Linked DNA regions of Homo sapiens. The protein of the gene in region 1 purifies or fractionates together with the protein of each later gene. This does not show direct contact. Each region holds a gene or a part of one and is shown in the gene's direction. Other genes may lie near its edges.

Region 1 (3,500 bases):
TGACCTCAAGCAATCCATCTGCCTCGGCCTCCCAAAGTGCTGGGATTACAGGCATGAGCCACTGCTCCTGGCCCTCATGTATAGCTTTGAAGGAAGAATGTTTCAGAATCCCAGGCCTGGAGGGTGGAGGGGACTTGATCTTCCAAAGGGGAGAAGAATGCTTGGGAGGCCGGATGGAAGGGAATAAAACATTGTGGCTCGTACACGGTGCAGTTAGGGAGGCCAGAGCCCCAGGCCACACAAGGTCTTGCAGGCCGTGGGAGGAGTGTATATGTTGTTCCAGGGACCTTGGACAGTCACGAGGGGGTTTTCAGCAGGAGGGTGATATGGTGTGACATGCCCTTGCTGCCCAGGTGGGACCCAAGCCCGTTTCAGACATCATCTGGCACCTAAGGCTGCAGCTCAGGAACATCTCCCACCTCCCTGCAGATGTCTGCAATGTTTCTTTTCTCCTTCCTCTGCTGTGGGCGCCCAGAGAGTGCCCTAGAGAGTCCTTCAGGTTTCTCAGGCTGCTTTTCCCTGGTCATTCTGTGTGTGCTGTGTAACATCCACCGTCTCCCCTGCCTCATCCCATTCTACCCCCAACCCCTGCCTGGGGCTCATGCCTGACTCTGCACTGGTGTGGCCTTTGATACTTAATAAACAGGGCACTGAAGGAGAAGCAGGAGCTGGACGTTTGCAAGATGTCAATTCAGGGAAACCCATGTTTATCAAGCTCCTGCTGTGTGCAAGGTCCAGGGTTGGCCCCTCTGAGGGTAGCTGTTGAGCTCCCCAGTGCCCCAGCACTGGGCTCTTGCCTTTGGTTGATTCTCGGGTGACAGTTTGCCATGGAGTGTCGGTTAGTGCTGGGCAGCATCTGACATCCTGCCCCTGTGCACTCTGCACTGGACAGTGCTCAGAACACGTGGATCCAGCAAGTGCTCAGAGGGCACCACTCTGTGATCTAGGTGCTGCAGGGATGGGATGGAGCAAAAGACCACATCCCTTTCCTGCTGGAGCTGGCATTTAGGTGGGAGAGTCAGACAATAAATGTAATAATTAAGTAATGAGATAATATGTTAGATGGTGCTGAGTGTCGTGAAGAAAGGAAGGGACAGCAGAAAAGGGGTGGGGAGAGCTGGTGAGAGGATGGCAGTTTTAAATCAGGAGTCAGGAAAGGGCTTACTACCTGTGATCACAGGTGACATGTGGGAAGGGAGTGAGGGAGTGGGTGATGTGGTCATCTGGGGAAGGGCATTCCAAGCAGAAGAAACAGCAAGTGCAAAGATCCCAGGGCAGAACTATCTGTCATGAGTTCCAGTATAGTGTGGAGAGAAGGAGACACAGACCATAGCTCCATGGAGCACCTGGAGGGACCCTGGAGAGTCTCTAGGGGAGTGAGCTCCTCTTGGTCTCCAACTCTCTCTTCTCTTCCCTGAGGGGCTCCTCTCTCCTTTAAAAAAAAATTTTTTTTAATTGTGGTAAAATTTACATAACAAAATTCGCCATTAACCACTTTAAACTGTACAGTTCAGTGGCCTTTAGTCCATTCACAAAGTGCTGCAACCATCATCTCTAGTTCCAAACATTTTCATCACTCCAAAAGGAAACCCTGTGTCCTTTAAACACTTGCTCCCCATTTATCCCCCCAAGTCCCCTTGGTAATCACTCACCTGCATTCTCTCTCTATGGATTTGCCTATCCTGGATATTTCATATAAATGGAATCATACAATATGTGACCTTTTGTGTCTGGCTTATCTCACTAAGCACAGCGTTTTCAACATTCATCTGTGTTGTGTTGTAGCATGTATCAGTACTTCATTCCTTTTCACAGCAGAATGATATTCCATTGTAAAACACTACATTTTTTTTATCCATTCATTAGTTTATAGGCCTTTTGGCTATTGTGAGTAGTGTTGCTGTGGACATGTGCATACGAGTATTTATTAGAATACCTGTTTTCAGTTATTTGGGGTATACACCTAGGAGTAGAATTACTGGGTCACATGGTAATTCTGTTTAATTTTCTGAAGAACCATCAAGGTGATCTCCACGGGGGCTGCACCATTTCCACCAGTAATGTACCAGGGTCCCAATTTCTCTACATCCTTTTCAATGCTTGTTATTTTCTGGTGTTTTTTTTTTTCCCCCCCAGTGTGGCCATCTTACTGGATGTGAAGTGGTATCTCATGGTTTTAATTTGCATTTACCTAATGGCTAATTAACACTGAGGATCTTTTCATGTGCTGATTGGCTATTTGTATATGTCATTTGGAGAAATGTTTATTCAAGTCCTTTGTCCATTTTTAAAATTGGCTTGTCTTTTTGTTGAGTTGTAGGGTTCTTTATATATTCTGGATATTATTTAATTTGTAAATAACTCCTCCCATTCTGTGGGTTGTCTTTTTTTTGATAGTGTCCTTTGATGCACAAAAATTTTAGTTTTGCTGAAGTCCAATTTATCTTTTTTTCCTTTTCTTTAGGTGTCATATCTAAGAATCCATTGCCAAACCCAAGGTCATGAAGGTTTACCGCATGTGTTTTCTTCTAAGAGTTTTATAGTTTTCACTTATATTTAGGCCTTGATAAATTTTGAGTTAATTTTTGTATATGTGTGAGGCAAGTCCAACTTCATTGTTTTGTACTCAGATATCCAGTTATCCCAGCACCATTTGTTAGGCTGTTTTTCCCCTGTTGAATGGTCTTGGTACCTTTGTAGAAAATCAACTGGCCATAGATGTATGGATTTATTTCTAGACTCTCAATTCTATTCATTTTTTTGGTTTGTTTGTTTAAGAAAGGGTTGCATTCTTTCGACAGCCCAGGCTGGAGTACGGTGGCTCCATCTTGGCTCACTGCAACCTCCGTCTCCTGGGTTCAAGCAATTCTCCCATCTCAGCCTCCCAGGTAGCTGGGACTACAGGCGTGTGCTACCATGCCTGGCTAATTTTTGTGTTTCTTGGTAGAGATGGGGTTTCACCATGTTGGCTAGGCTGGTCCTGAATTCGTGACCTCAAGTGATTTGCTCACCTCGGCCTCTCAAAGTACTGGGATTACAGGCATGTGTGAGCCACTGCGCCCAGCCAATTCTATTCATTTGATCTATATGTCAATACCACACTATTTTGGTACTGTTACTGTGGCTTACTGTGGTTATTGTGGCTTTGGAGCAAATTTTGAAATTCCAGATTGTGAGGCCTCCAACTTTGTTCTTTTTTTTTTTTTGAGACGCAGTCTCGCTTTGTCGCCTATGCTGGAGTGCAATGGCGCGATCTCGGCTCACTGCAACCTCCGCCTTCTGGTTTCAGGTGATTCTCCTGCCTCAGCCTCCCGAGTAGCTGGGATTACAGGCGCCCGGCACCACGCCTAGCTAATTTTTCTATTTTTAGTAGAGATGAGGTCTCACCATGTTGGTCAGGTTGGTCTCAAACTCCTGACCTCATGATCTGCCTGCCTCTGCCTCCCAAAGTGCTGGGATTACAGGCATGAGCCACCGTGCCCAGCCAACTTTGTTCTTTT
Region 2 (4,300 bases), on another chromosome or scaffold:
ATCAGATTAGTTAGATACAGAGTTTCCACACACAGGTTCTCCAAGGCCTCACCAGAGCAGCTAGATAGAATGTCTATTGGTGCACTCACAAACCTTGAGCTAAACACAGGGTGCTGATTGGTGGGTTTACAAACCTTGAGCTAGATACAGAGTGCCGATTGGTGTTTTTACAATCCCTGAGCTAGACATAAAGGTTCTCCAAGGCCCCACCAGAGCAGCTAGATACAGAGTGTCGATTGGTGCACTCATAAACCTTGAGCTAAACACAGGGTGCTGATTGGTGTGTTTACAAACCTTGAGCCAGATACAGAGTGCTGATTGGTGTATTTACAATCCCTGAGCTAGACATAAAGACTCTCTATGTCCCCACCAGACTCAGGAGCCCAACTGGCTTCACCTAGTGGATCCCGCACCGGGGCTGCAGGTGGAGCTGCCTGCCAGTCCGGCGCCGTGCGCTCGTACTCCTCAGCCCTTGGGTGGTCGATGGGACTGGGCGCCGTGGAGCAGGGGGTGGTGCTCGTCGGGGATGCTCGGGCAGCACAGGAGCCCATGGAGTGGATGGGAGGCTCAGGCATGGCGGGCTGCAGGTCCCGAGCCCTGCACCGCGGGAAGGCAGCTAAGGCCCGGCGAGAAATCGAGCACAGCGCCGGTGGGCCGGCACTGCTAGGGGACCCAGTACACCCTCTGTAGCCGCTGGCCCGGGTGCCAAGTCCCTCACTGCCCGGGGCTGGCAGGGCCGGCCGGCTGCTCCGAGTGCAGGCCCGCCAAGCCCATGCCCACCCGGAACTCCAGCTGGCCCGCTGTCACCTCTCAATATGACGCCACTAAACATGGAGTTGATAACAGGTGTGCAGTAGCTCAACATTATATAGTATTTCTACCATACAGATACAGTAGTAGACAGAGCTTGATGAATATAGAACAAATTTGCGTCAGACAATAGCTTTTTGTTTTTAGATAGTTTCTTTAAGGGTGAAAACATTTAACCAGGCTCTCTTGAAGCCCTGCTGCCTGGGGGAAGTCATTTGATTTTTGCTAGTCTGTATGCATTGTTTATGTACAGACTTTATGGTTTTGTTCTCAAAGGCATCTCCTCCTACCCCGAGCCTCACACTGCTGGGGTTTCGTTTGTTTTAAATCTTGGTTGGAGGGGGCACTCTCTCCAGAAAGTAAAAGACAACGGATCTGGCTCCAGTCCAGGACGGAAAGCATAACGCTTGATTTCTGGATGGGGTTTGCACAAGGACAGCACGTGAGTTCTGCTCTCCGTGGGACTCAGACCGGATAGGCCGTGAAAATCTCTAAGGTGTCAGTCCACGCAACCTAACCTGGCAAAGGGAATGCTTTGCAAACTCAGGCCCCAGAACAGAACTCGGCCTACCAGATCCAGGGAGCCAAAGCACGCAGGCGCAGACAGAGTAGCGGTGAGCAGAAGGCAGGCGGGACGGGCGCGCGCACTCGGCGGCCAGGCGCGGCGGGAGCGCGCCCTAGGGGGCGGGCACTGAAGCTGCGGCTTGCGGTTCAGCGGGTTCTAGGGCGCCGGGCGCTCGGGCCTCGGCCATGGCTCACAGGCCGAAAAGGACTTTTCGGCAGCGCGCGGCTGATTCCAGCGACAGCGATGGCGCCGAGGAGTCGCCTGCTGAGCCTGGGGCGCCGAGGGAACTTCCGGTCCCGGGTTCTGCGGAGGAAGAGCCGCCCTCTGGAGGAGGCCGCGCGCAGGTGGCGGGACTGCCCCACCGGGTTCGGGGCCCTCGTGGCCGGGGCCGGGTCTGGGCGAGCTCCCGGCGTGCCACCAAAGCGGCTCCCCGCGCGGACGAAGGCTCAGGTGTCCAGGGAGACGCGGGGAAGCGGGGAGGTGACGGCACAGGGCGGGAAGGGGCCGCGGGGTCTCTGGATCCTTCTCTGGGGGTTCTATAACTTGCTGCCGACCACAAGCCATGCTGAGTCTTATCCAGAAAGACTTATCCAGAAGGTAGTGAGCGAGAAAATAGCTCGAGCACTTGCCCGCTATCTGCATCTGCCTTTTGGACTCCTTGGGGGAAATAAAACAATCGTGTACAGTTGGGAGGCTCTTCGTTTTCACCATCAGTTGACTCCATCAGTTATAACTAACACAGTTATCAAAGTTTATGAAGAACCTAAACTGTCACAACAAAGTTCAATAATTTATAATACTATTAAGTGGGCAGAAGTTATATGTACCTTTTAGACACTTGACCAACTTATCTTTCTTGAAAACATTTAGCCAGAGTAGTACAGGAATCTAGGTTTTGGGACATTCCCCTTTGTTTATTTTCTTTTTTCACCAGTTATTTGCAAAAACTAATAGTAATATATACAACACAAAGAAGCATGATAGAGATTCATGACACTGTAGATGGTACCAGTAATGGTGTTAGATATAGTGTCGTCATTTTGAAGTACCTTTGAGTTCTTAAATACAGGTGTAAGGCAGCATAAAGTTGTTTAAATAAAATGTGCTGCTCTGAGTTGGAATTGTAGCTTAATGAGGAATACGGTTTTTGGTTAGTCTTGAGAGCTAAAATCTTCCTATTATTTTTTATTGTCATTAAAGTGATTTTTATTAATTTATTGAGAAGTAAAAAATGTATATACTTATAGTGTACAACATGATGTTTGAAATGTGTCTACAGTGACTAAATGGAGCTAATTAACATTTGCTTTACCTTAGGTACTTACTTTTTTTTGTGGTGAGAACACTTACTATCTACTCTTACTAATTTTCAAGTATGCAATGCATTGTTATTAATTTTAGTCACCGTGTTGTAGAATAGAATTCCTCTTGTCTAATTAAAATGTGTGCCCTTTGACCAGTATCTTCCCAACTACCCTCAACCTCACTCAGTCCCTTCTAACCACTACTCGACTCTCTGCTTCTGTGATTTCTGATTTCCACTTTTTTAGATTACATATGTGAGATCATGTGGTGTTTGTCTCTCTGTGCCTGTCTTATTTCATGTAACATAATGTCCTCCAGGTTTATGATCTTCGTGATTTCTTGGTCTTTCTTGTGACCTTCTATTTGTCTAAAGTTTTCATGACCTTTTATATTTGTTTTCTGGTTAAACTTTGTAGATGAAAGTTGAAGTCAGGAGTTCCTTTTCTCTTGCCTTCTAGAATAGTGGTTCTCAAACTCTTTGGGAATTGGACCTCTTTTAGACTCTTAGAAATGATTAAGGATTCCAAAGAGCTTTTGTTTCAGTAGGTTATACCTATCAATATTTATCACACTAAAAATAAAATTTATTAATTCACTTACAAAAAATCTATTACATGTAAGGATAAGTAAGATTTTTGTGAAAAGTATTACCCCAAAAAAGGAAGAGTAGCATTGTTTTCAATTTACAGATCTCTTTAATGTCTGGCAAAATATTAATAGAAGACAGATGAATTGTCATAGGTGTTTCTGCTTTTAATCTCTTGTGCTATTTTGTTTTGGTTGAAGTATTTGAAGAAAATACAGCCTCTGACAGATACATGATTAAGACGAGTACTTAATAGCATTTTTAGATCATTGAGGGTGTTGTGCTTTAATATAACACAGCTCAACAAGTAATAAACTAACCCTTCTTAAAAGTTAGTTGCGGGCCGGGCACAGTGGCTCACACCTGTAATCCCAGCACTTTAGGAGGCCGAGGCAGGTGTATCAAGAGATCAGGAGTTCGAGCCCAGCCTGGCCAACATGGTGAAACCCCATCTCTACTAAAAATACAAAAATTAGCCAGGCATGGTGGTGGGTGCCTGTAATCCCAGCTACTCAGGAGGCTGAGGCAGAGAATCACTTGAACCCGGGAGGCAGAGGTTGCAGTGAGCTGAGATTGTGCCACTACACTCTAGCCTGGGTGACAGAGTGAGACTTTATCTCAAAAAAAAAAAAAAAAAAAAAAAAAAAAGTTGCCAAATGGATTCTTAAACCATATGATTAAATTTGGGGTGCTCTTACCTTAAAACTCTGTTCTGTTTTGTACTTTGGATCTTTTACTCATGAACGATTGGTAACATCTTGCATTATTTGGAAGGTATTCATTAGCTGAGTTTGCAGATCTTGCAAATGTTGGAGCATTTTATTGTACAATACCAAAAAAATCATAGTATTACCACTGATTAATCAGTCTGTAAGTACTGGAAAGCTGTTAGGTTCACAGTAGAGAATATAAGTTTTCCAAAATCTCAATTTTCACTTGAAATCTCTCATTTTATTGATAGGCACAACCGGGCTCATGTTTTGAGAAAATGTTTGTCAGATAGCCATGTCTGAATAATCGGTTTGTTAGTCATT

What was found. The genes of interacting proteins can lie anywhere in the genome.
Region 2: the proteins of HDAC11 (region 1) and GCFC2 purify together in Homo sapiens (co-immunoprecipitation; 4 studies listed by BioGRID and IntAct, with this or other methods). This does not show direct contact.

Annotation. Positions count from the first base shown.
Region 1 is NC_000003.12:13,486,806-13,490,305, forward strand, and holds part of HDAC11 (histone deacetylase 11), read left to right. Parts: intron 1-3,500. UniProt on the Homo sapiens protein: Responsible for the deacetylation of lysine residues on the N-terminal part of the core histones (H2A, H2B, H3 and H4).
Region 2 is NC_000002.12:75,708,116-75,712,415, reverse strand, and holds the start of GCFC2 (intron Large complex component GCFC2), read left to right. Parts: upstream 1-1,500; 5' UTR 1,501-1,560; coding exon 1,561-1,825; exon of another isoform or gene 1,826-1,972; intron 1,973-4,300.